Linked DNA regions of Homo sapiens: regions 1, 2, 4, 5 and 6 are each linked to region 3. Evidence: fine-mapped expression QTL. A gene starts in region 3. Each other region holds a variant in brackets. All regions are shown on one strand. Distances are between the middles of the regions.

Region 1 (4,084 bases), 180 kb after region 3:
CACATCACTTGACATATCAATACTAGGGTTAGAAATGACATTTATTCATCTCAATATCAATTATATACATATTTTTCTTTATCTATCTATCTATCTATATATATATATATCTGTTTCTGTATCTAACTATCAGACTTTGATCCTCTAACAGATTTTACTTCTTTTCAATTGCCTTTGGAATATTTACACAAATTGATTGCATAGTAGATCAGTGGTTTTCTGTGGACCTGCTACATCAGAATCATTTTGGATCTTTAAAACAAAGTAAAACAAAGCAAAAACAAACAAAAAAGCCCAACAAACAAAAACCAAAACCTAGACTTCTAGGCTCCAACCCAACCATTTGAAACACACACACACACACAATAAATAAATAAATAAGATATGTAAAGATGTGTAAATATATATATTCTTTTTTTTTTTTTTTTTTTTTTTGAGATGGAGTCTTGCTCTGTTGCCCAGGTTGGAGTGCAGTGGTGCAATCTTGGTTTATTGCAACCTGCAACTCCCAGGTTCAAGCAATTGTCCTGCCTCAGCCTCCCAAGTAGCTGGGACTACAGGCTCATGCCACCACACCTGGCTAATTTTTTTGTATTTTCAGTAGAGATGGGGTTTCGCTGTGTTGGCCAGGCTTGTCCCGAACTCCTGACCTCAGGTGATCTGCCCTCCTCTGCCTCCCAAAGTGCTGGGATTACAGGCGTGAGTCACCGCGTCTGGCCTAAATATATATATTCTTATTTCCTTCCTTATTTCCACAGGATTCTGTAGAATTCTGTAACTTGCTTCTCTTAACAATGTATCTTAGAGATTTTTCCGTATTAGCATATAGAGAATGTCTTAATTTATTTTACTGCTGGATGGTATTCCATTGCATGGATGTGAAATAATTTATTTAATACATCCCCTGGGCCGGGCATCGTGGTTCACGCCTGTAATCTCAGCACTTTGGGAGGCCAAAGCAGATGGCTCACCTGAGGTCAGGAGTTTAAGACCAGCCTGGCTAACATGGCAAAACCCTGTCTCTACTAAAAATACAAAAATTAGCCGGGCGTGGTGACATGCACCTGTAACCCTAGCTACTCGGGAGGCTGAGGCAGGAGAATCACTTGAACCCGGGATGCGCAGGTTGCAGTGAGCCGATTTGGCGCCACTGCACTTCGGCCTGGGCGACAGAGTGAGACTCTGTCTCAAAAAAAAAAAAAAAAAAAAAAATAATAATAATACGTCCCTTGTTAATGACCATTGCCAATATTTTGGTAACACAATAATGATTAAATGAATAACCTTGTGCAGACTCAGTTTTTATGGATTATGATAGTTTCTCAGATGAGATAGCTAGGTTAAAACATAAATGCATTTGTATTTTGATAGATAACGTTAAATTGCCCTCTGTAGGGGCTGTGTAAATTCCAACTTTCACCAGTAATGTATCAAAGTGCTTCTTATTCCAAAGCCTCTTCAGTAGAATGTATTGTCAAACACTTGGATTTTTGCCCGTCTGATAGATGAGAATAGTATTTAGTGTTGTTTAAATTTATAATCTTAATATGAATCATGTTGGACATCTCTTCATATATTTAAGAACTGCCTCTATTTATTTGCTATGAACAGTTTATAAGCTTTGCTTCTTTTTAAATTGGGCTGTTATTTAAGATTCTATTTTTTAAAATCTTGGCTAGGCACAGTGGCTCATGCCTATAATCCTAGCACTTTGGGAGGCTGAGGCGGGAGGATCACTTGAGCCCAGGAGTTCAAGACCAGCCTGGGCAACACAGGGTGACCCCATCTCTTAAAAAAAAAATTAGCTGGGTGAAGTGGCACACACCTGTGGTCCCAGCTACTCAGGAGGCTGAGGCAGGAGGATTGCTTGAGCCTGGGAGGTCGAGGCTACAATGAGCCATGATTGTGCCACTGCACTACAGCCTGGGTGACAGAACAAGACCCTGTTTTTAAATAAATAAACTAAATCAATCAATCCATCAATCAGTCGACCTATGTAACTAACTTACTTGTAGGTAATTATCGATAGCAGCTATAATTAGGAACTTCTGAACCACAAAGTAAAACTAAATACATTTCA[G/A]AGAGCAAGCTCTCTGCTGGATGTATTCACTTACAATTTGATGATAAAACTAGCAATTAATAACAAAATAATGATTTAAAAAAACCACTAAACCACTGAGAAGTAAACAATCCCAATACTTTCTTAAGTAGCTTTTAGGCCAAAGGGAATAGAAGCTGCAGTTACAGAATATTTATAAAGTAATGACATTTATAATACTATACATAAAACCTATGGGTTGTATTCAAAGCAATACTTAGAAAAAAATTTATTACCTTAAATGGTTTCCTATTAAATAAGAAAAAGAACTGGCAGGTGTGTTGGCTCATGCCTGTAATCCCAGCGTTTTGGGCGGCTGAGGCAGGAGGGTCACTTGAGCCCAGGAGTTCGAGACCAGCCTGAACAATAGAATGGACCTCATCTTTACAAAAATAAAAATAATAATAATACAGTAAAATAAAAATAAGAGTGATATTTGCAAGTTGTTATTATTGTTAGCAACTTCTCTGTGTCTCATTTTCCTCATCTGTGAAATGATGATGGTAGCATGTACCTTGAAATTATTGAGTGCTTACATGTCCTGGTGAGTGAGGACCTTACATGCTGCAGCTGCTCAGTAATGGTGGCTATTATTATTATCAATATTGTTACCTAAAGAAAGCCAGAGGAAGGAATTCACAAAGATTAAAGCAGAAATAAATAAACTAGAAATAAAAATAATTTGAGACTTGATAAACCTAGGTTTCTTTTGGAAGAAGCAATAAGATAGGTAACTAGCTAGTCGAATATAGATGAGAAGAGAAAATAAGAATATACAAAATTAGTCATAAAAAGATGCATGACCACAGATGTGAAGAAGATTAAATGATTACTAATGGATGCTGTGTTCAACTCATGCTATTAAATTGCTTCTGTTTCTAATTTTATTTGAAATTTTATTTGAAACAGATGCCTTTCTAGGAAAGTATGCCAAATGTAACTTAAGATGAGGTAAAAAAGAAACCTGAACAAACCGGTAACTGTGGAAGAAATTGAAAAAGTTCTCAAAGAATTATCTCTTCAAATGTTTCTAGATCTAGATGGTCTTGCAGGAAGGTGTTTTAAACTTTAAAGGAGCAGATTTTATGTTATTTAAACTGTTCAAGAGAAAAGAAAAAAAAATATGGAAAGCTTCCCAATTAATAATGCTTAAAAGAGCTTTATGGGCTGGGCACGGTGGCTCACGCCTGTAATCCCAGCACTTTGGGAGGCCAAGGCGAGTGGATCACCTGAGGTCAGGAGTTCACGACCAACATGAGTGAAACCTGAAATGAGCCTGGCCAACATGGTGAAACCCTGTCTCTACTAATAATACAAAAAAATTAGCTGGGCGTGGTGGTGCACACCTGTAATTGCAGTGAGCCGAGCTTGTGCCATTGCACTACAGCCTGGGTGACAAGAGTGAAAGTCCTTCTCAAAAAAAAAAAAAAAAAAAAAGGATCTTTTTGAATAAAATCAGTCAAATGAGATGCAAAAAAAGGGTAGGGGCCAATATTCCTTACGAATGTAGAAATCAATGTTGTAAATAAAATAGCAGCCCCAGAAACTCAAATCTAAATAGACTAATAAGAGTAATTCACTATAGCCAAGAAAGAGTTATTTTACCAATGCAGGATGGTTAATATTAGGAAATTCATTCAGTGTTTGTTTACCCAAGGCTTAATATATGCCGGACTTTGTCTGGTTGTAGAGATACTGTGAGGAATGAGTTCTTGCTACTTGCCCATAGAAGGCATTCAGTCCAAATGCACTGCGTTTTAGAGATTCTTGTTTCTGTTCTCGGTCTTACTCATCATCTTCTTCTTAGGGACAGGGATCATTATAGGCTAGTGAGGCTGATGGGAGACGTAGGTGGTGAGGGAGAACTGAAGGCAATGTGGAGGGTGTGTCTGAGTGTGTGTAGGGTTGATAAATGATGCTAGAGAAGTAAGAAAAGGCTAGATCCTGTACCAGTGATGTTTAGGAGCTCAGATTTTATCCTAAGAG
Region 2 (4,084 bases), 230 kb after region 3:
GTGGGCTCGTTGGCCATCACCACCCCCTGGGCGCAGTGGGTGAGGGGACCTCTCTCTCAGAGTGACATAGCAGCAGCAGAGGGCAGGGGCCAGACCCGATGGTGCCCTGCCTTGGGGTTCCTGGCTGGAGTGGTGAGTGGCCAGTGCCCCAGGGGGCTGGGTCAAAGGTCCTTCTTGGAGCAGGATAGCTTGGAACCAGGGTTGAAGTCAGCAGGAAAGAAAGAGCAGGCCCAAGTGGGGAGCAGGAGGCAGCGGCTGTCCTGGGCTTTTGGGGGCTGCCTCAGGCCTGCGTGGGCGCAGCTGCCGAGGGTGGGCTGGCCTCGCTCACCCTGCCTCTCTCCTCAGGGCAGCCAGCCGTCCACGACCTCACCCTTCAAGCAGGAGGTGTTTGTCTACAGCCCGTCCCCGAGCAGCGAGAGCCCCAGCCTGGGGGCAGCTGCCACCCCGATCATCATGAGCCGGAGTCCCACAGGTCAGTGGCATCTGGTGGTGTGTGTGACGTCACCAGGAGGGCAGGCTGTGCCCTGTCCACTGTTAGCAGGGCCCCAGCCACGCTGAACTGGCCAGTTTTCACCCCTCCTCCCAGCTGTGAGGCCCTCCGCTCTGTGCGCCCGCCTCTTCTGTTCATCAGCCTTAAGATGCCCAAGTTCCTAAGCTCTTCTTACACTGAGAGTTGTGAAGCTGAGGCAGAGAGTTGAAGGCCTTGTGGGAGATCCCACAGCGGAGGAGTCGGGATTGGCAGTGGGAAAGCTGAGCACTTTCCATTAGCCCTTCTCCCCACCTGCCAGTGCTCCAACCCTTCTCCCCACCTGCCAGCGCTCCAGGGCTGCCAGGGCCCGTCTGTCATGTCGGGGGTCTTGATAATACAAGACGGGGGAAGGGCTGCAGGGGGAGGGAACAGCATGTGGAAAGGCCCAGAGGAGAGGAGAGAGCGGGTATTCCGGAACTGCACGTGTTCATGGCAGCTGGGTTCACAGAGCCAGGCGTCAGAGAGGCCGGAGCGTTGACAGGCTGGGTCAGCCCCGGGCCCCGGGTGAGGATTTTGTTCTGCTAGCGGCCACTGTTGGAGTGTTTGAAGGTTCTTAAGTAGGGAAGCACCATCTGGAGTTGAGAAAGTCCATTTTGGCTGCTGCAGCTGCTGAGTGTAGAATGGATTAGTAGAGAGCAGGAGCAGAGGGGAGGGATGGAGGGGAGGGGAGAGGAGGGGAGGGGAGCTGCGGCAGAAGCACCTCGGTTCAGGAGAGATCAAGGAGGTAAAATGTACGGGCTCAGTAGCAGGGGTTCAGAGAGAGCAGGAGTCTGGGCGTTTTGGGGTTCTGTGATCCCTGCAGTTGGTCAGAATAGGGGGGCCAGCACCTGAGGGCCGTTCAGGTAGACCTGTGCGGTGGGCACTGCTGGGCGGGTGCTCCGGGTCTCTGCCCTCGTGAGGGCAGCACAGGACTTTGAGCCTGGGTCCAAATCCTGGGTCTGCTGCTTACTAGACATGTCATTGGGCGAGTCACCAAGCCTGTCTGTGCCTCAGTTTCTCCAAGCAGAAAATGA[A/G]GGGAGGGGAAGAGTCGTGTCTGCCTCAGAGGGTTGGTTGTATGAAGATGAAAGGAGCTCATGCTTGTACGAGGCCTGGAACTGTTAACCTCGGTGTTGGTTAAAGAATGGGAATGAGACAATAGTGTAGTCAGCGGTTCTGAGCCGGGGGCAGTCTTGCTACCCCATGGATGTCTGGCAATGTCTGGCGACATTTTTAATTTTCACAATTTTGGAGGGGTGCTACTGGCATCTAGTGGGCAGAGGTCACGGAAGCTGATAAGCAATGTACAGGACAGCCCCCTAGCCACATCAGACAAATAATTCTCTGACCCCAAATGACATTCGGTTGAAAAACTCTAGTCTCAATGGTAGAAACACAGGAAGGGCCAACAGGCCTTCAGGGTGGCTGAAGCCAAAATGTTCCTGGGGTTCACACAGCGAAGGGATGTTGCAAAGGGAACCTGCAGGGTCAGAGATGAAGGGAAGATCGTGATTCCACAGCCAGTGACCCTTTGCATGCGTGTTTCTCAGTGAGTGGAAGAGTTCACGTGCCTCCTCTCATTCAGCCCCCTGTGGTTGGGCAGCTGCGGAGCTGGGTTCAAATCCTGGTTGTAGCATTGACAGGTCCACGTCTCTGAGCCTCAGTTTCCTCATCTGTAAAAGGGGGTGGAAATACAAATTCCCTGATTTTTTTTCGAGATGGAGTCTCACTCTGCCACCCAGGCTGGAGTGCAATGGCGCAATCTCGGCTCACTGCAACCTCCGCCTCCCAGGTTCAAGTGATTCACCTGCCTCAGCCTTCCAAGTAGCTGGGATTACAGGCATGTGCCACATGCCCGGCTAATTTTTTTATTTTTAGTAGAGACACAGTTTCACCATGTTGGCCAGGCTGGTCTCGAACTCCTGACCTCGTGATCCACCCACCTCGGCCTCCCAAAGTGCTGGGATTACAGGCGTGAGCCACCGCGCCTGACCTGGTGTTTTTGTTTTGTTTTGTTTTGTTTTCTAAATAAGACTTAAATATTGAAGGAATGAATGAAAGAATCTGTAAGCAAGCCTGGCCCCCACTTGGTGTTAAATAAACGTCAAAGTAAGGAAGGTTTTGAGTAAAGGAATTAGAGAGTCTCTGCAGGTTGCTGAAGGTCACCGAGGGCGGAAGGGACCTGGAGCGGGTCTGGTGACTTATGGCCGGTGCTTCCCACACCACACGGTGAGGCTGCCTCTTACACACCTTTTCTCCACACAGTATTTAACCCCGATGGGCTGCTTTTCACCCCCAGCCCACGAAAGATGTGCTTGGTACCCACTGGATCAGGGTGGGCTTGGGGGGATCTGGGAACCGGTTTCATGCTGTTTGGCTGAGTCTGGGGAGAGGCAGGGTGGAGTGGGGAGAGGTGGCCTGACGTCCTGACGTACAGTCTCCATAATGTCAGATATCTGATCATGGTCATTTCCTACCTGGGCTTCCTGGGGCACAGAAGAGGACTGATAGGTTACACAGAGGTGTTGTAGCCCTGGGTGGAACTCCTCGATTCGAAGCACCACGAACCAGCCAGCAGCTTCCAGGAAGGCTGCACTAAGCTTTCCATACCCTCGGCCAGAGGACAGCCAGAAAGTCAAGTGGCCCTCCTGCCAGCGGGGCACAGCGGGAAATGTTGACACCGGGCTCTGCCACCACTCACACACACTTAACGGAATTTTATTATACGATGGATGTCAAACCCAGTGTACAAATACTAGATAATATTCTTTACCATAAGTCCCATATGTCCAACTGATTCTCACAGAATGCTTTTAGTGGTGTTTGCTTCACCTTTTTATCTGTAGCCAACTTAAGGCTGCAGGAGATGAATGTGTGTAATTCTGACATGAATGTGGACTGATATTACCATGTTTGTTAATAAGTATTTTATATGTATATATTATATATACATATATAGTATATACATATAATATACATATGTTATAGATACACATAATATACATATATGTATATATTATATATACATATATATTATATGTTATATGTATATACATATGTATAATATATATTATACACACACACACACACACACTCACTCTCATGGCGCCCGGCCATGAGTATTTTGTATTAAGAGAACTTCATTCGTCAGTGACATGAGTCATTTCCTTGCTGTATCCGAGAAAAGTTTTCAAACCCCGGAAGGATATTTCCTCAGTTTTCTTTTGTGCTATTCACAATGTAATCGCTGCAGACACAGCATGTTTTGAAGTTTCATGTAAATTCCTTTTTTTCTATTAGTTCCTTAAGTCTAGACAACAAAACAATCAATCAAGTCATGATTTGTAGCATGTACCAGTTTCTGTGGTGTAAATACACTTGTCGTGGCTGATCTCAAGCTACTGACGTGATGTCCTCGAACGTGGACTTGGGAAGAAGATATACTGTAGCCACCATCTTTAGGGTGTTTCTACCACATGGATACAATAGACGTAAGAGCACAGATAATCGTAAAACAGAGAAAAATAAGTAGGAAGTGACGAATTTCAAGTATTTATTACCTCTGTTGAATATAATTTA
Region 3 (4,084 bases):
CCCTGTCTCTACTAAAAACACAAAAATTAGCTGGGCGTGGTGGCGGGCGCCTGTAAACAGATATGTGGGAGGCTGAGGCAGGGGAATCACTTGAACCAGGGAGGTGGAGGTTGCAGTGAGCCGTGCCACTGCACTCCAGCCTGGGTGACAGAGCGAGACTCTTCAAAAAAAAAAAAAAAAAAGACATGATCTTTCTCCTCTTTCCCTTTCTCTGTCAGTTCTCTTCTCTGCCTTCCTGTGAGTCGGTTTCATTTTCCCCACACTCTCCACAGCCCCAGGCTTTCATCTCATGCTTCAGCAGGGGAAGCCTCTTGGGATGGTGTCTTGTTGGGTTTACTTAGGTCTCCTGAACCAGTCCCCTTGGCTGGCCAGGCCTGGTCAGGTGCCCACTCCTGACCCTGGAGGTGGATTGAGTGCAGAGGGTTCTTCTCAGATGGAGGCAGGGCAGGCAGGACCCAAGTTGTCCACGGTACCTGTTGAGCACTTCCTGGGTGTGGGTGGGTGCCTCTGGGGAGAGAGGCGCTTGTGGCACTCTGCAGTGGCCATCCTGTGGGAAGCCAGCAGCCTGAAGCCACCCCAGAGCATGAACCACACAATCCTAACTTTCCTGGGGCAGAGGTGAGGGTTGGGGGAAGCCTCCGGGCTCCTGCTGGGGACTAGCTGCCTTGGAGGTAGAGAGTCAGCCCCCAGCCCTGCTCTGGCCCAGGACCCTGAAGCTGCTCCCCCAGCCCACTCAGGGCTTGAGGCCCCTGTGCTGTCCCCTGCTGTGAAGGAGTCAAGAAAATAGAAATCCTTGTACCCTTCGTCCACAAGCTGGGGTTGGCCCCTGGCACCTCAGCACGGAGTCTAGGACCTTCACAGTGGCAGCAGGTGCCAGAGAGGAAATTTCAGGGAGGGTTGGCCAGAGAGAGAGGCCAATGGCACCAGCTAGGGCCGTTTTTTTCCTTTTTTTTTTTTTTTTTTTTTTTGAGATGGAGTTTTGCTCTTTGTTGCACAGGCTGGAGTACAACAGCATGATCTTGGCTCACTGCAACCTCTGCCTCCCAGGTTCAAACGATTCTCCTGCCTCAGCCTCCAGAGTAGCTGGGATTATAGGTACCTGCCATCATGCCTGGCTCATTTTTGTATTTTTAGTAGAGATGGGGTTTCACCATGTTGGCCAGGCTGGTCTCGAACTCCTGACCTCAGGTGATCCACCCGCGTTGGCCTCCCAAAGTGCTGGGATTACAGGTGTGAGCCGCCACACCCGGCCTTTCTTCTTCTTCTTTTTTTTTTTTTGAGACGTTTTCTTCCCTTTCTCCACTGCTTGGGGGTAGGGTGGGGCCTGGGGCCCTATCTGTGCCCACTCCCCCCAGTGTCTGTTGTAGTGTACGTGCCACATCCCTTTGAGGGGCTGCCATTAGTAAGTGCCTGCTGTGTACCAGGTGTGGTCAGCACCAGTGCGTGCAGAGATGAGCACTGGCCCTGTGGTGTGCAGACTGGGATGCGTGCAGGACACGCTAGCCCTGTGGCATGAGGACCAGCACCTGAGCATGCAGAGATGAGGACGAACCCTGCGGTTCAGCTGGGAAGACAAATCCACCCGCACATGGGTACCGCCCCCCCACCCCACACAGCCAGCGTGAAGCATGCCACTGCTCTGACCTCTGTCTAGACACTTGGCGGCGGGGGTGGGGGGCGGCTGACAGGTACAGCTCTGTGCCCATGTGTGTGTACATGCGAATGCCCCTTGCAGTGTGATGTGGTCTGAGTATGTGGATGAGTGCCTGCGGGCACATGTGTATGCGTTCATGTCTGTGCACGTGTCCAATGGGGCTTTGTCAGTATGTGAGAAGCGTGTGCAGGTGTGTCTACTGATGCCTGTGTGAAGTGGTGTGTGGATGTGCACGGGAGCGTGTGTGCCGCGCTGTGCTCAGGTGTGTACAGGTGTCTAATGATACGTATGTCTGCGTGCATGTATCTGTGTGTACCTGGGTATCCTGGGCGTGTGTGTGTCCATGTGTGCATCCCACGTGCCCCTGTGCCCATGCGTGTGCATGTATACTTACATCCACGTGTGCTAGTGGAATGACATGTGTGTGGCTGGTTCCTCTGGCGTGTGCCGAGCCATGGTGGGGCAGGCAGGCAAAGGTCCCTGTCTCAGGCAGCCCTCGGGAGTGGGTGTGAAGGTCCCCAGTGCTCAGGCGTCCCTGAGGCTTCCAGCTGAATCTTTCTGTCCCTCCTAGGCGTGGCTGTGGGAATCCTTGGGGCGCCTTTGGGTTCCAGGAAGCTGGGGCTGTGTGGGCCGGGCTGCTAACTGGGGCTGTGGAGCAATCTGCCAGCCGAGCCCCTTCCGGAGCTGTGGGTTCCTCTGGGTGTGGGGAAGCTGCCCTCCACAACCTCCTCGGCCTATCTTGGTGCCTCCTGGAGTGCAGGACACACCTCCCAGCTCTGCAGCCTCACCCACAGGAAGCTCGGGTTGGGGGCAGGCGAAGAGGGAGGTGCCACGCTGGGCTCCCCGCCCTGCACCGGCACTGACCCCGCTGTACCACGGCCCTCTTGCGGACAGCCCCGGGGACGTCGTTGGGACATCGCTGGGACCCCGGGCTCTGCAGCCACAACCATGTTTGGCCGGAAGCGCAGTGTCTCCTTTGGGGGCTTCGGATGGTGGGTGACAGGTGGGAGGGTGGGGGAATGATGGGAGAGAACTTAGAAGTGAAGTCTTGTTAAGTGCATTGGCGGCCGTGGGAACAGAGGGGCTCGGGCTGTGCCTGAGAGCTGGGTCTGCTGACGCCCTGGCAGGTCGAGATGCAGGATCCTGGTGGGGACATCAGAGACCGTAAGCCTTCCCCACTGTCCCTGGGCACAATCTGCTGGCGAATCCTGGAGGTCTGCGCCGGCTGCCCGTGGGGAGGTGGATAGCATGAGTGTGACTGCAGTTGAATGTGTGTGTCTCTGTGTCCGCAGGTTCCCATGTATGTGTGTGCGTGTCTGGGATTATGTGTAAGTGTGTGTGTGCGCGTTTGAGCCTGTGTGTGCAGGCGTGTGTGTGTGGCTGTGACTGCCAGTCCGTGTGACCGTGTGTGAGGTGTGTGCCTGTGCATGTGGGCAGCTGCCTGTCTGCACTTCTGGCCTTCTGTGTCTGTGTGTGCTTGTGTCTGCGTGTTTGTGTGTGTGATGCTCCTGTCTGTGCTGTTGTTGTGGCCTTGTGGCAGGGGAGTCTGTACCTGCTGGACCTCTGGGCTGCCTGCTGTCTTGGGGGTGGGTTGTGAGAGAAGGTCTCCCACCTGCACCCCAGGCAGCCCACCCTAGCTCTGTCCTAGCCTGAGCAGCTGCATCTGTCCCCAGCCTCCTGCCTGGCCCTCTGGACACTCTTGCCTCTAAGCTTCTGTCTGGGATGAGGGATGTGCTTTTTCTTCCCGGCGGGGGGCAGAAGGTAGGCACACGAAGGCCAAAGGCTTGTCTCTGGTTCCCAGTGCTGGCAGCTTCTTCGCAGCTGGGGAACAGAGTCTGGTGGTTTTCATGATCGGTTTCCTTTCAGTGCCTGGGCTGGGGGCGTTGTCAGACTGGGAGAGGGCCCCGCGGGAGGTGGCCGGGGGGTGTCCCGGTGTGGAAAATGGTGGACTAATGGGGGTGGCACGAAGGGCGAGGGGGAGAGGGGCTGTGTTCCTCGGTAATTTTTCGCTTCCGTGTGTGTGGCTTATTTCCCTCTTCCTCCTCTTCAAAAGCACTTTGCCATCCATCCTCTGGCAGGGGGGGACTGTGGGCACTCCATGTTTGGCAGATGGGATGGTGCGGATGAGAAGATGGCACAGCGTCGCCTGTGTCTGCTCTCGGGCCCTCCCTGACGCCTGGATCTGGGAGCTGCCACCCCGAGGGTAGGTGCCAGTGTCCGGGAGGCAGCAGAGGACTTGGCTTCTGGTTGGGAGGGGTGTGTGTGTCTTGGCTGTGGGCCTTGCAGGGCAGGGCCCAGCAATTAGATTGTGCCCTCCAAGGCCCGCCTTTCTCTGGGAGGTGTGGAGCAGATGGAAGGCTGGTCGCCAGAAAGCTCCGGGTGCACAGGTCCCGGTCTCAGCCTAGCTTCATTCCATATGAAGCCCTCTGT
Region 4 (4,084 bases), 210 kb after region 3:
TGCTTGGGTGTGTGTGTGTGTGGTGGGTTGCAAGGTGCTTTGGGGAAACTCTATTTCAGGAGCCCTTTACTGGGTGCAGGTCAGCAGGGGAAGTGAAAAGGCCACTGGGCGACAGTGGTTACCCCTTACCAGCTGCTTGCTCATGCCAGGCACGGTGCTGGGTCCTTAGACGCACAGTCTTGAATCCTGACAAGCCCCTGGTGAGACAAGACCTCTCGCTAGAGGGAGGAAATGGAAGCTGAGAGCTGAACCCACTTAAGGCCTGAGGCCACAGAGCCAGGGAGCTGTGGCTGAGGTCCTGTCTGGGTCTGCTTGCGGTCTTGGTCATTGAGCCATCAGAGCAGGCGAGAAATTGGCTCCACGGAGTCGGGTGTGCACGAAGCATCACTCTGGATTATTTTTCAGAAATGAGTGTAGTCCTCATCCTGCCTGCTTGGAAGGAAAGTCCAGCTCAGCCATCACCAGGACTACCCCTTTCCCTCCCCCCTATCCCTGCCTCCCTCTCCGGAAGTCCTCAAAGGTGTCAGGAATCTCAGGTGAAGCCCACCGCCGGGGAGGGCCCTGTCTTTGTAGCCCCCTCCCCGTTTCCCGTCACGACTTGTCTGTTGCTCGGACGATGCTCTGTGTGCCACCGCGGCTCCCAGGCCACTCTTGGGCGTGGGGCCTTTGTCACGTTTGAAGCTTTCTGAGGTTCCCAGTGCATCCTCATGACCCACACCAAGCTCCTTCCTCCTTCCAGCCATGCAGGTCCCTTCCCCAGAGTCACCTGCATCTGCCTCTCTCCCTCCCTCCAAGCCCTCGCTGGAGGCCCTCGCTGCATTTAGAAAACAGGAAGGTGGGGCTGTGTTCAGGCAACTTCTGCTTTCAGTCCAGTGACCCAGATGTCCCCAAGAGGGGGGAACAACAAAGGCCTGGCCGCCTGGTTGGAATGGGGTCAAGAGAGGCGCACAATGAGGATGGAAGGTGAACGCACGTCGCAAGGAAGGGCCCTGTCCTCCGTGTGGCCCACAGGGCTCTGCTGTGGGACTGTCCAGCTGGAGGGTTGGATGGACTTGAGGATGTGTCTGAAGCCACTTACACGGTCGGCACAGACCACTCTAATGCAGGCTGGAGGAGGAGGGGGAGTGGGGTGGGAAGGGCAGAGCTGGGGCTGCCCTCTGGCCTCTGTCCCAGGTGCCCACGGTCTGCAGTCTCCCCATAGCCTTCCCACACCCCCACCCCTGATTCTGGCTCTGTGACTGAATTCTTGACCTGGGCCACCGGTGCCTGGTGGGTGGTGGTAGGGAACCGGGTTCAGCTGCTGGAGCCCAGCCAGAAATCACGTCAGCCGAACGCGCACCATTTCCTGACTCGGGGCACTGCAGTTTGGGCTGGGCAGACAGCCTGGAGCTTGAGAAGAGAAAGCCCGTATTGACCAGCTCTCTCCCGCTCCGTTTCCCCTCCGGACTCTGGCAGGGCCTTTCCTTGGCTCGGTGCCCAGCTGCCTGCTCACCCGGCCTGGCAGACTCTGCATCTGCTCCACTTCACAGGCCGGGGAGGCTGGCAGCACGCCAGGGCTGGGCTCACGTCAGCGGCTGTGTAGGGAAGGGAGGGCAGTCTCCCGAGAGCCTCACAGCCTCGTGGGCTGAGAATAGGTGAAGTCAGGGCACCTCTGTGCAGAGGGAAGGCGGGGTGTGGGGCCCGTCCCACGCCTGGGCGACCCCCATGCAGCGAACCTCGAGGCCGTCACTCTAAAGCTCAGTCTCACTCAGGGTGCCAGAGGTGCGCGCCCCACCCTCAGTTCCTAGCCTGGGCCTAGGACTGGCTGACCCCGTGTGTGGGGCCAGGGCTCCCGAACACGGGTCCACCGGCTGCACGAGAGTTTCCGGGGGGCCCTACCCTTCCGATTCGGCAGGTTTAGGCCAGAGCCCATGAACCCAGTCTGTATTTTTAAACACCTGAAGCAATTTTGAAGCAATTCTGATTTATGGCCGAGCTGAGGAGTCAGGCTTGGGAAGAGAACCCCAGAGACGGGTCGGGAGAGGTCTGGATGCTCTGTTCCTCTGCGGCTAATCACCTGTGGGACTTGGGGGCTTCTCTGTGTGTCTCTGGGCATCTGTTTCCTCATCAGGGAGAACAGTTCTCCCTGTGCCTTCTCAGTAGGATTAGCGTCAC[G/A]GTCGAATGAGGTCACGAGATGCCATCTCCCGGGCACTTGTATGGCATTAAAATTAGGGTCCCAGCCCTGTCCAGTCATCTTGCCAAACCTGCTTCTGGCCTCCAGGAATGCAGATGAGAGGCTGCGGATGGCCCCACACCGTCCGGCCCCACTTCTAGGAACAGGGTCAGGGCCTGTGCTGGCGATGCTCACAGGAGTATTTTGTTTGTGTTCTGGGAAGAGGAGGAGGGAGAAGGTGAGTAGCTTTGTAAGGAGCGTGGCTCCCGTAGGGGCAGCGCTCGTCTCTTCCCTCCAGGTCCGTACCATGACTCTGTTTCACTCAGGTCTCTGTCACTGCGCGGGAAGATGTGCCCACCTTTGGTCCACCTCTGCCCAGTCCCCCCGTTTTCCAGAAGGTAGGACACTCTTCCTTCTGCCCCTCTCGCATCCACGATGCCAGGTCTCAGTGCTTGAGTAGCAATGGTTGGGATGGAGCCAAATTCAGGCTGGGAACATTAGGGAGCTCCTTTTGCAGGTTTTGGGGGGAACCTCCTTTCTTGGGGTCTCTCCCCACCTCTTTCATGCTGCCAGTCTGGCCCAGCATAGGACCACTTGTCAGGGTGTTTGACACTGGGGTTGCTTTTCTGCTGAAAGACGGGCTTTTATGTTGAGCCCCGGTCAAGGAGCCTTGGGCAGGAATGAGCTCCAGTCGTGGAAGTGCCACTGTGGCTTCCCAGGACCAGGGAAGCGGGTTTCCTTGTTGGGATATTTGCAAGTGGGCTTGGCCTGGGCTAGAAATGATCCGCTGTCGGAAGGGACTTTTCAGGGGTTCTCCCCATGGCCCCGGCTCTGCCTGCCTGTCACTGTGGCTGAAGACCTTCTGGCAACAGCCGAGAGTGACAGACCTGAGGTCCGTCTTGTCTCTTCCAGGGCCCGGAATTCAGGGAGTTTCTGCTCACCAAGCTCACCAATGCCGAGAACGCCTGCTGCAAGTCGGACAAGTTTGCAAAGCTGGAGGTGAGAGTGTGGTTTCTGAAGGTCTCCCTCCTGACTGCTGGGCCACCTGTTAGCCAGCCTCATCCAGGGCTCCTCCATCTTTTTTTTTTTTTTTTTTTTTTTTGAGACAGAGTCTTGCTCTGTTACCCAGGCTGGAGTGCAGTGGCATGATCTTGGGACTCACCACAACCTCTGCCTCCCGGGCTCAAGTGATTCTCCTGCCTCAGCCTCCCTAGTAACTGGGATTACAGGTGTGCGCCACCACGCCCAGCTAATTTTTGTATTTTTAGTAGAGACAGGGTTTCCTCCATGTTGGCCAGGCTGATCTTGAACTCCTGACCTCAGGTGATCCGCCTGGCCCAGCCTCCCAAAGTGCCGGGATTACAGGCGTGAGCCACTGCGCCTGGCCAATCAGTCCTTTTTTTTTTTTCAAGACAGAATCTCACTCTGTCACCCAGGCTGGAGTGCAGTGGCCCGATCTTGGCTCACTGCAAGCTCTGCCTCCCGGGTTCACACCATACTCCTGCCTCAGCCTCCCGAGTAGCTGGGACTACAGGCGCCCGCCACCACGCCCAGCTAATTTTTTGTATTTTTAGTAGAGATGGGGTTTTGCCATGTTAGCCAGGATGGTCTTGATCTCCTGACCTCGTGATCCGCCTGCCTCGGCCTCCCAAAATGCTGAGATTACAGGCGTGAGCCACTGCGCCTGGCCCAATCAGTCATTTTTAAAGCACCTACTATGTGTCAGGCCCTATTCTGTTCCCTGGGATATGGGGATAAGTGAGACAGTTTCTATCCCTGGAGAGTACACAGGGTAGTCGGGGGGTGGGGCAGGGGGTCATTACTAAATAGATAGTTATAGTACAGTGTGCCAGCACTAGGCTGGGATGGAGGTCAGCACAGCTCAGATAGTGACTGTTTCTGCCTGTAGGGGACAGAGGGTGTGTTCAGGGA
Region 5 (4,084 bases), 240 kb after region 3:
GGGGACGTGTGTTTCTTTTAGATCAGGGAACTAGAGGCCTTGTAACCTCAGAATGGCCGGAGAGATGCCGCCAGCTGGGGATGTCCAAAGAGTCTCCTACTCGCCCCTGAAGACCTGCAATGGGGAAGGAGGGGCAGATGGCCTGTGTGCGGATGGGAAGGGGGTTCCCAGTGACACTGGACTAGACGTACTAGTTAGGCCTCCCTTCCACCGATGGGGTCTGGTTCCCGCAGGCAGAAGGGGAGTCGCCCAAGCCCGCTTCTGACCCAGGAGGGAGGAGTTCCTGAGGGCTCCCTTGCTCCCCTGCCCTCAGGCAGCTGTTCCCTCCTTGTGTCTTTGGCGGAGGCCCTGGGCTGAGGTGTGTTCTCCCTCCCTGTCGGGAGTCAGCACTGTGAGGGACCACCCCAGGAGGCCTCTTCCCCTGCCTGCTTTGAGGGGGCACGTGGTTTGAGCAGAGTGGCCGTGGGTCCAGCTCGCCCCCATCAAGGCCTGGATTTCTGCTGGGGAAGTCACCAGAGACCCATCTGAGCTCCCAGCCCTCTCCCCACATGGGGCTTCAGGGGTCAGAGTCACAGCTGGAGCCAAGAGGAGGGGTACAACCGAACCCACTCTGTGTTCAACCTGATTTATGAAAAAGCAGAAGACAAATGGGCATATGGACCTTCACCCCCGGCTCCCATCACGCACTCTGGACGCCACTGCCCACCAAAGCCGTGGCTATGCGCAGCTTCTCGGGCCACGCAAGGTGGGGCACCCTTACATCAGGTGCCCTCCTGCTCCTGAGTGTATCCAGTGAGCTGTAGCCATGGGCAGGCGTGTTCCCCACCCCTTGCTCCCGACGTCCGCGTCGTCCCCTCCTTCCTGTACGGAATGTTCGCTCATCGCCGCCTCCTCCTTGTCTCCTCAGGGAATCCCCTCTTCTGTCCTGGAAAAGGCTCCTGTACCAGCAGTTTGGGAGTGCCGTCCACGACCCTGACAGTCCCAGCCCTGCTGCCCCATGGCCACGTGCCCACAGATGTGCTGTTGGTCCAGGTGTCCCAGTCTGGCCACAGCCCTGCCTCCGCCCTCACCTACATGCCCTCCCAGCCCCTCCCATCTCTGGACGAGGCCTCCTTCCTCAGGTTCCTCCTGCTCCTGACCTCCCAGTGTGATGTCCGGGTCCTTTATCATCCTATTCATCCTGGAGAGGAAAAGTGTCGGGCAAAGGGGGATCTGGGGGGAGCTCAGCAGTGACTGGGGAGCTGGTCTGCCTCAGAGACAGAGTAGGGGGTGGGAGCAGAGCCTCGGTGAGGGTCTTGGCCACAGGGCAGTGCCTTCCTGAACGTGGCAGGCTTTACTACCAGGAACGCACTCGGTGGTGGAGGCCCCATGTTCCCAGGAGCCAAGATTCGTAGCATCCTTGAGGCCATCCTGATAAAATTCGGCGCTATTGCCCCCGTAGCTCTGGAGCTCTAAACCGTCTATCTGCTTCTGTGCTGAACGCCTTTCCCATCTGCTGACGTAGGCCCAGGGCTGCCCTGCCCCTGCTGCCAGTGTACCGTGAGCGGGGCTCCAGCCAGTTCAAGCTCAGAGCCAGAGCTGGACGGGCCAGAACTGCGCTGCACACTTCCTGGACTGAGGCGGGGACTTTGGGTCCCACCCGGTTTCTCCTGATTATGGCTGCTGTGGGGTGAGGGGAGGGAGGGGCAGCCCCGAGGCAGTCTCTTCCCTTTGAGAAGATATTTTCCCACAAAGGGGTGGGAAGCCAGGAGTGAGAAGGAATTCAGGGAGAGCAAAGGAGCCAGTGCTGAGATGCTGCTGTGTTGGTTGAGGAAAACCTCGGGCCTGAGGGCCAGGCCGGAGCCCAGGTCTCTGCTGACAATGGGGGTTCAAGGAAGACGTCGTTATCTCCCCTCCCCACTTACTCGAGGAGAGAGGTGAGGGGGGGATGACTTGCGGGTTCTGATCAGGCCCCTGGGTGGGGAAGGGGCACAGTGTCCCTCAGCAGCTTACGCCCCTGGAGTCTTGGGGGGCCCAGCCTGGCCCTGGGGCCTTTTCCAGCTACTGTGCCCTTGGGCAGCTGCGTCTGGGGCTCAACCCCCCAATCCTGTTCCCCTCTCCAGCTGCGGGTCTGTAGGCAGCTGTCACATCTGAAGGGTTTCTGCAACCTGGACCCCATCTGGGTGTGGGTCAGACCCTGTGACCCACATGCCACCCCCACCCTCCACAGAGCCCCCTTGCTGGGACAGCCAGCTCACCTCCAAGGACATCCCCTCCTGGCTTCTCCCCCTTCCGAGTCTGCAGCGCCGTGGGCTTCTCTGCCGATGGGCCCGGGTTGGGGTTAAGGTGGGCATCCTCCAGGTACAACGAGCCTGAAGAGCCCCTTTCAGTGCAGACGGGGCTGCAGAGTGACACTGGCTGGGCACCTGCCCCACGACCAATGACAAGGATTTCCAGCTGAATGCTTTATTCCCATAGGGATCTGGACCTGTGCCCAAGATATAAATACTACA[C/CTTTT]TTTTTTTTTTTTTTTTTAACTGACATTGTGAAATTCTCCCTATAGCTTTTGCCATTCAAGCAACATTGTGATCTTTCTTCCCCGCCACGTGTGTGGGAATGATTGAGTCCTGTTTGCAAGCTGGAGAGGAGCTCTCCCTTTGCTAGTACTTTCTCTAAAGTACTAGTCTAGTAAAATTTATTCTTGTTAGAAGGTCAACAAAATATCTGTTTAGCTTTTATGAAGAGTCACCGTAGCAGCCCCCACGGCTGGAAAGAGGCCTGTACGTTCTGGACGCGTTTTGTTGGCTGGGCTTCTGGAGGCACTGGCAAGGTCAAACTGCATTTCTTTAAGAACAGTTGCAGGATCTGGCTCGCCTCTGTGGGAAGCCGGCATTACAGGTGCTTGGTGGATGGGCCGTGTCACATTGCCATCTGGGGTCCTTTGGGGTTTCCAGGTTGTCACCATGCTGTCCCATTTGGGAATCCCATACCTGCCTGTCCCCACTGCGCTGGCTGACCCTTGCTGCCTGCTGCCTCTTGGGAGGGCTTTGTCCCTGCCTCTGAGCTGGTGGGCAGGATGGCTGGGTGGCCCCCAGAGAAGCACAGACCTGAGATGGGGTCTCCATGCCCGGTTTGCTGTTGGAATGATCTGAACAGGACCCCAAATGCCTCTTCCCTCTGGTCATGCCTCACTATCTCTAGGAGCTCCATCCTGTGGCTTCCAGAGTGTGCACTTCCAGCCCACCCGGGCAGTGCTGAGAGGGAGGAGGAGAACAAGGATGGCCCAGCCTCCCCTCCCTCCCCTAGACCACGGGGCGGGCAGCTCGGGTTCCTGGAGGGCTGTTTCCCCCACGCTGTCCCTACATCTGCTCTGATCTAAAATGTCTTTCCTTTTATGCTGCGCCCAGTCTTGGGGCTCAAAGATTTGCCCAAACCTCATTGGCCCTCGTGACTAGGCTCATCTAGATGGTGCTCACGCTGGTGTTTGAGGCATTTCCACTGTGATCTCCACGAGGGGATGTTTTCCGGGACACATCTCTGGCTCTGGGAACTGCCTGACTCACTGAAGAAACTACTTTTCAGGCACTGTAGGGTCACCCATATGCCTCCAGCTCAGTTGACGCTTAAAAACAGGTGCAGAAAAGCTCGCGATGGAAGGTCTTAATGAGAGTGTCTGTCTATGCCAATCATGTAAAATGACGTTTCTTGAAAAAGATTCAGTGGTTCAGCTTTGTCAGCATCATCTCAACACAAGCCTGCTGGCTCTTTTTAGCATCTCATCCAACCATGTCATCGTCCAGATGAGAAATCTTAGCCCAGGTGAGGGGAGTAACTTGCTTGAGGTCACACAGCTGGCTGTTGGCAAAGCTGGGATTAGAACCCTCAACCCAGGGTCCCTTCCTCTGCAGCGCCTACATGGTTGGTTGAATAAGTGGCTGCGTTTCCTGGGGCCCTGGGTTTTGGGGAAGCCAGTTAGCTGCTGCTTTGGCACTGGCATGGAGGTGAGCAGTCAAGGATGCTGGTGAGGCTGCAGTTTCTGCTCTTTTTCATCAGGGGGGATAGTCTCTAGGATTTTTCAGTGAGGACCCTTGGGCTTTGGATGCAGCTTG
Region 6 (4,084 bases), 220 kb after region 3:
GCAGTGGTGCGACCTCGGCTCACTGCAACCTCTGCCTCCCGGGCTCAAGCGATTCTCCTGCCTCAGCCTCCCGAGTAGCTGGGATTACAGGTGCCCGCCACCACACATGGCTAAATTTTTTGTATTTTTAGTAGGGACACCATCTTGGTCAGGCTGATCTTGAACTCCTGACATCAGGTGATCCGCCCATCTTGGCCTCCCAAAGTGCTGGGATTACAGGCGTGAGGCACTGCGCCCGGCCTCCTTCCTGTCAAAGTTCTCATTTCCCAGGCTGATGGGAGCATAACTGAGAATCCCCAGGGCTGAAAGCCATCTCAGCCATCCATCCTTGCCCCTGGTGAGGCTGCTGCTCCCCCACGTCAGCACTGACCCTTGATCTTTCTCCTGAGCAGCAGGCCTGCCATTGCCCTGTGTTGTGCCGCCTGGCACCTCACCCCGCTTGGAGCAGTTCCTTACAGCTCACTTCTGTCCTCCCAGCTGTAATGGAAGCGTTTCTCCCATGAGACACAGAACAGTTGGCTTTTGGACATCTAGACCTACTTTTCAAGCTGAACTGCTTGGAGATAGTCTCAGGAATCTGCTGGTTCTACAAACACTTCTAAAGTTTGCATTTTCACTTAGATCTAAAAAAAAAAACCTTCCAATTATAAAGACTGAACGTTTGGCTGGGCGCGGTGGCTCACGTCTGTAATCCCAGCACTTTGGGAGGCCGAGGCAGGTGGATCACCTGAGGTCAGGAGTTCGAGACCAGCCTGGCCAACGTGGTGAAACCCTGTCTCTACTAAAAATACAAAAATCAGATGGGCGTGGTGGTGCACACCTGTAATCCCAGCTACTTGGGAGGCTGGGGCAGGAGAATTGCTCAAACCTGGGAGGTGGAGGTTGCAGTGAGCTGAGATTGCGCCACTGCACAGCAGATCCAGACTGTGTCTCAAAAAAAAAAAAAAAAAAAAAAAAAACAAACCTAAAGTTTGCAGTGATCACTCCAAATTAAGAGATGTTCCTATAGGGTAAATAGGTAAGGCCTGAAGTCAGCACTGCATACGCAGCCCATGGGGCCACTGGGGTTGGGGGTCTGTGAGCAGATTCTCGGGAGTCTTGCGAGAACAGCTTTCACGATGAAAGAGCTGTACGTTATGTTTGAACGATGCTGATCTCTAGACCATTTTCCAGTGCCATTCTCAGTTACTGCCAGCTGTTGATGAGGTTGTTATTGGTCCGTAATGCAATGAAAAGTGATGATACTTGCTGTACCGACGTCAGATGGACGTAGAGCACGTGCAGGCCACATTTTGAGAAATGCTGAGCTCACCCAGCCCTCCACTGACCTCATCGCACAGAGGTGGAGCAGAGGACCGGGGAGGAGAAGGCTGCCGGGCTGGCTGTGATGGACCCGGGACCGTGGCAAGCTGGGAGTTGCCAGGTTCATTTCTCCCAGCCTTTGAGGGACTGTGATAGTTCATGCCTTGGTCTGACCTGACCCCTAGTGGCAGGAGGGGCCACAGCTATCCCTGGCAGTCTTTGTGGCCCCGCAGTACCTGCAGGGAGGTACCTGTAAGCCGGTCCCCCTAGCAGTGCCAGTGATGGCAGGTGGAGCACAGCAGGGCCCCGCCAAGAATCCTTGGTCTTTGGCGTCTTTGCCCCCTCCTTTTCCTCCTGATGGGGAGTTGTGATGTCAGGATGGCCCCGCTGTTTTGGGGGTCCACGAGAGAGCTCAGGCCTTGTGCTTGGCCCTGCTCCACTCCTGGGTCGGAGTCATGGTCTCTTGGAGCAGAGTTGGCATCTGTCTTGCATTTGCCCCGCTAGAGGGACAGAAGACCCGGTGCTGACTCCTCACACTTACCCAGCCTGCCGCCTCCTCACACTTACCTTGCTGACTCCGGCGGCTGCACCAGGACTAATTGAGGAGCCAGTGTCCTCCCTGACACCAGCCTCTGAGTTTTTCTTTTCTTTTCTTTTCTTTTTTTTTTTTTTTTTTTTTGGTGGGAGCCTTGAAAATTCGTGGTTTCTAATCATCCTTCAGTCATCCACCAGTTGAATTGTATTTTCAACCTGGACCAGTTTTTAATATACAGGGACCCTTTTATCTGGAGCCCAGGGTTCTGGGTTTGGATCCTGGCTCTATCTCTTACCTGCTATGTGGGCTTGGGCAATAATTTACCCTTCAGAACTTTTTCTGTCCAATGCCTGTCCTCTCTGCATCTCAGAATTGTAGAGATTCAATAGATCTTGTATGTGAAGCTCATGAGACCAGATACTGTTACACAGGAGTTACTATTTCCCACATGGAATCCTTTCTGGGAAAGAGA[CAG/C]GGAGGAATACAATCACGTGTCACTCAACGACGGGAAATACGTCCTGAGAAATGACGGGAATACGTCCTACGACACACGTCGGCTATAGAGCCCGTGGCTGCCAGCACAGACCTGGATGGTCTAGCCTAGGACACACGTCGGCTATAGAGCGTGTGGCTGCCAGCACAGACCTGGATGGTCTAGCCTAGGACACACGTTGGCTATAGGGCGCGTGGCTGCCAGCACAGACCTGGATGGTCGAGCCTAGGACACACGTCGGCTATAGAGCCTGTGGCTGCCAGGTTACAAAGCTGTGCAGCAGGTTCCTTTACTGAATATTGTAGGTAATTGTAACACAAAGACAGGCATTTGTATACTAAACATCTAAATATGGAAAAGGTACAGTAAAAATATAGTATTAGAATCTTAATAGGACCAGTGTCATCTATGCAGTCTGTTGACTGCAGTGTCATTGTGTGGTGCTGGACTGGATTGCAGAATATAAATGATTAGTTTGGAATGTCATGATTGATGATGGTGTTGTCAACGCACAAGGGCACCAAGAGAATGTAAAGATGCTGATTTTTTTTTTTTTTTTTTTTTTTTGAGACAGTCTCGTTCTGTCACCCAGGCTGGAGTGCAGTGGTGCGATCTCGGCTCACTGCAACCCCAGCCTCCTGGATTCAAGCAATTCTTCTGCCTCAGCCTGCCGAGTAGCTGGGATTATAGGCACACACCACCATGCCTGGCTAATTTTTGTATTTTTTACAAAAATTAGAGATGGGGTTTCACCATGTTGGCCAGGTTGGTCTCGAACTCCTGACCTCAGGTGATCCACGTGCCTCCACTTCCCAAAGTGTTGGGATTACAGGCGTGAGCCATCGCCCCTGGCCGAGATGCTGAGATTTATGGAGCACTTAACTCATTCATGGAACCTGGCTGCGGCCAGGCTTGGTGGCTCACTTTGGGAGGCCAAAGCAGGAGGCTTACTGGAGCCCAGGAGTTTGAGACCAGCCTGGGCAACACAGGAAGAACCTGTCTCTATTTATTTATTTATTTTAAAAAAGGAAGCTCGCCGCTCCTCCAGGGACACCTCAGTGTGCCACCACCCCTGTCCTGCCCTCAGTTGTTCAAAGGGTACATGGCTTTATGATGCTTGCGTGACGGGGTAAATAGAACGCGCTGACTGTTTTAACCATGCGGTAGGAAAACTGTTGCTAGGTGACCCTGTTCTATGGTATAGAGAGGGAGTGAGAGATGTCCCTCCAGGGGCATCTTTGACTCAGATAAGAGATGCCCGATCAAATCAGGGGTATGAAGCTGGTGGGCTACACACCTCACTGTCAGTAGCTCATCTAGGGGGCTGTCCGGTTTACAAATGGCCCTCCTGAGTCTGCATCCCTTGTCAGGATAGAAAAGCAGGCAGGATGGGGTTCTTTGCCCTTCCCAAGCTTGGAGAAATCCTGACGTCCAGAGAGCCCAGGGAGACCTGTTGTTTGGGTCAGGAGCAGCAGCCCTGCCATTTTCTTGGGACCACTTTGCTGTAGACCCAGCTCTTCCTAAGATGACTCAAGGCTGGGCGTGGTGGCTCACGCTTGTAATCCCAGCACTTTGGGAGGCTGAGGCAGGTGGATCACGAGGTCAGGAGTTCAAGACCAGCCTGGCCAACACAGTGAACCGCCATCTCTACTAAAAATACAAAAATTAGCCAGGCATGGTTGCGGGCGCCTGTAGTCCCAGCTACTCGGGAGGCTGAGGCAGGAGAATCTCTTGAACCTGGGAAGCGGAGGATG

Which allele goes with the higher level. Positions count from the first base shown, and alleles are read on the strand shown. Sizes are in standard deviations (SD) of each study's normalised expression. Not every link is listed here.
In carriers of allele A in region 4, the expression in thyroid of the gene that starts at base 2,513 in region 3 tends to be lower than with G alone (large effect, 0.85 SD a copy in GTEx).
For the expression in monocytes of the gene that starts at base 2,513 in region 3, CTTTT is the high allele of the variant in region 5 and C is the other (large effect, 1.0 SD a copy in Fairfax 2014).
In carriers of allele C in region 6, the expression in lung of the gene that starts at base 2,513 in region 3 tends to be higher than with CAG alone (small effect, 0.13 SD a copy in GTEx).

The links. PIP is the estimated chance that this variant, and not a neighbour inherited with it, causes the effect. A credible set is the group of variants that fine-mapping cannot tell apart.
Region 1: its variant is the best candidate, but not a certain one, in a credible set for the expression of RAP1GAP2 in lung (TOPMed, PIP 0.52).
Region 2: its variant is the best candidate, but not a certain one, in a credible set for the expression of RAP1GAP2 in whole blood (INTERVAL, PIP 0.71).
Region 4: its variant is the best candidate, but not a certain one, in a credible set for the expression of RAP1GAP2 in thyroid (GTEx, PIP 0.59).
Region 5: its variant is the best candidate, but not a certain one, in a credible set for the expression of RAP1GAP2 in monocytes (Fairfax 2014, PIP 0.81).
Region 6: its variant is the best candidate, but not a certain one, in a credible set for the expression of RAP1GAP2 in lung (GTEx, PIP 0.68).

The regions. Positions count from the first base shown.
Region 1 is chr17:2,969,085-2,973,168 of GRCh38, forward strand. The region is part of intron 8 of RAP1GAP2 (RAP1 GTPase activating protein 2); the gene reads left to right. Among named protein-coding and RNA genes, the nearest start is that of RAP1GAP2-AS1, 5.2 kb to the left of the region's middle. The variant G/A (reference allele first, on the strand shown) is at 2,081.
Region 2 is chr17:3,026,599-3,030,682 of GRCh38, forward strand. RAP1GAP2 (RAP1 GTPase activating protein 2) reads left to right here. Exons shown (of 25, transcript NM_015085.5): 22 at 346-472. Among named protein-coding and RNA genes, the nearest start is that of OR1D5, 35 kb to the right of the region's middle. The variant A/G (reference allele first, on the strand shown) is at 1,543.
Region 3 is chr17:2,793,926-2,798,009 of GRCh38, forward strand. RAP1GAP2 (RAP1 GTPase activating protein 2) reads left to right here and starts at 2,513. Exons shown (of 25, transcript NM_015085.5): 1 at 2,513-2,646. The coding sequence starts at 2,603.
Region 4 is chr17:3,002,891-3,006,974 of GRCh38, forward strand. It overlaps RAP1GAP2 (RAP1 GTPase activating protein 2), which reads left to right. Exons shown (of 25, transcript NM_015085.5): 15 at 2,479-2,550; 16 at 3,065-3,151. Among named protein-coding and RNA genes, the nearest start is that of RAP1GAP2-AS1, 39 kb to the left of the region's middle. RefSeq lists enhancers at 729-858, 1,029-1,078. The variant G/A (reference allele first, on the strand shown) is at 2,155.
Region 5 is chr17:3,032,485-3,036,568 of GRCh38, forward strand. It overlaps RAP1GAP2 (RAP1 GTPase activating protein 2), which reads left to right. Exons shown (of 25, transcript NM_015085.5): 25 at 908-4,084. Among named protein-coding and RNA genes, the nearest start is that of OR1D5, 29 kb to the right of the region's middle. The variant C/CTTTT (reference allele first, on the strand shown) is at 2,493.
Region 6 is chr17:3,011,673-3,015,756 of GRCh38, forward strand. The region is part of intron 17 of RAP1GAP2 (RAP1 GTPase activating protein 2); the gene reads left to right. Among named protein-coding and RNA genes, the nearest start is that of RAP1GAP2-AS1, 48 kb to the left of the region's middle. The variant CAG/C (reference allele first, on the strand shown) is at 2,310.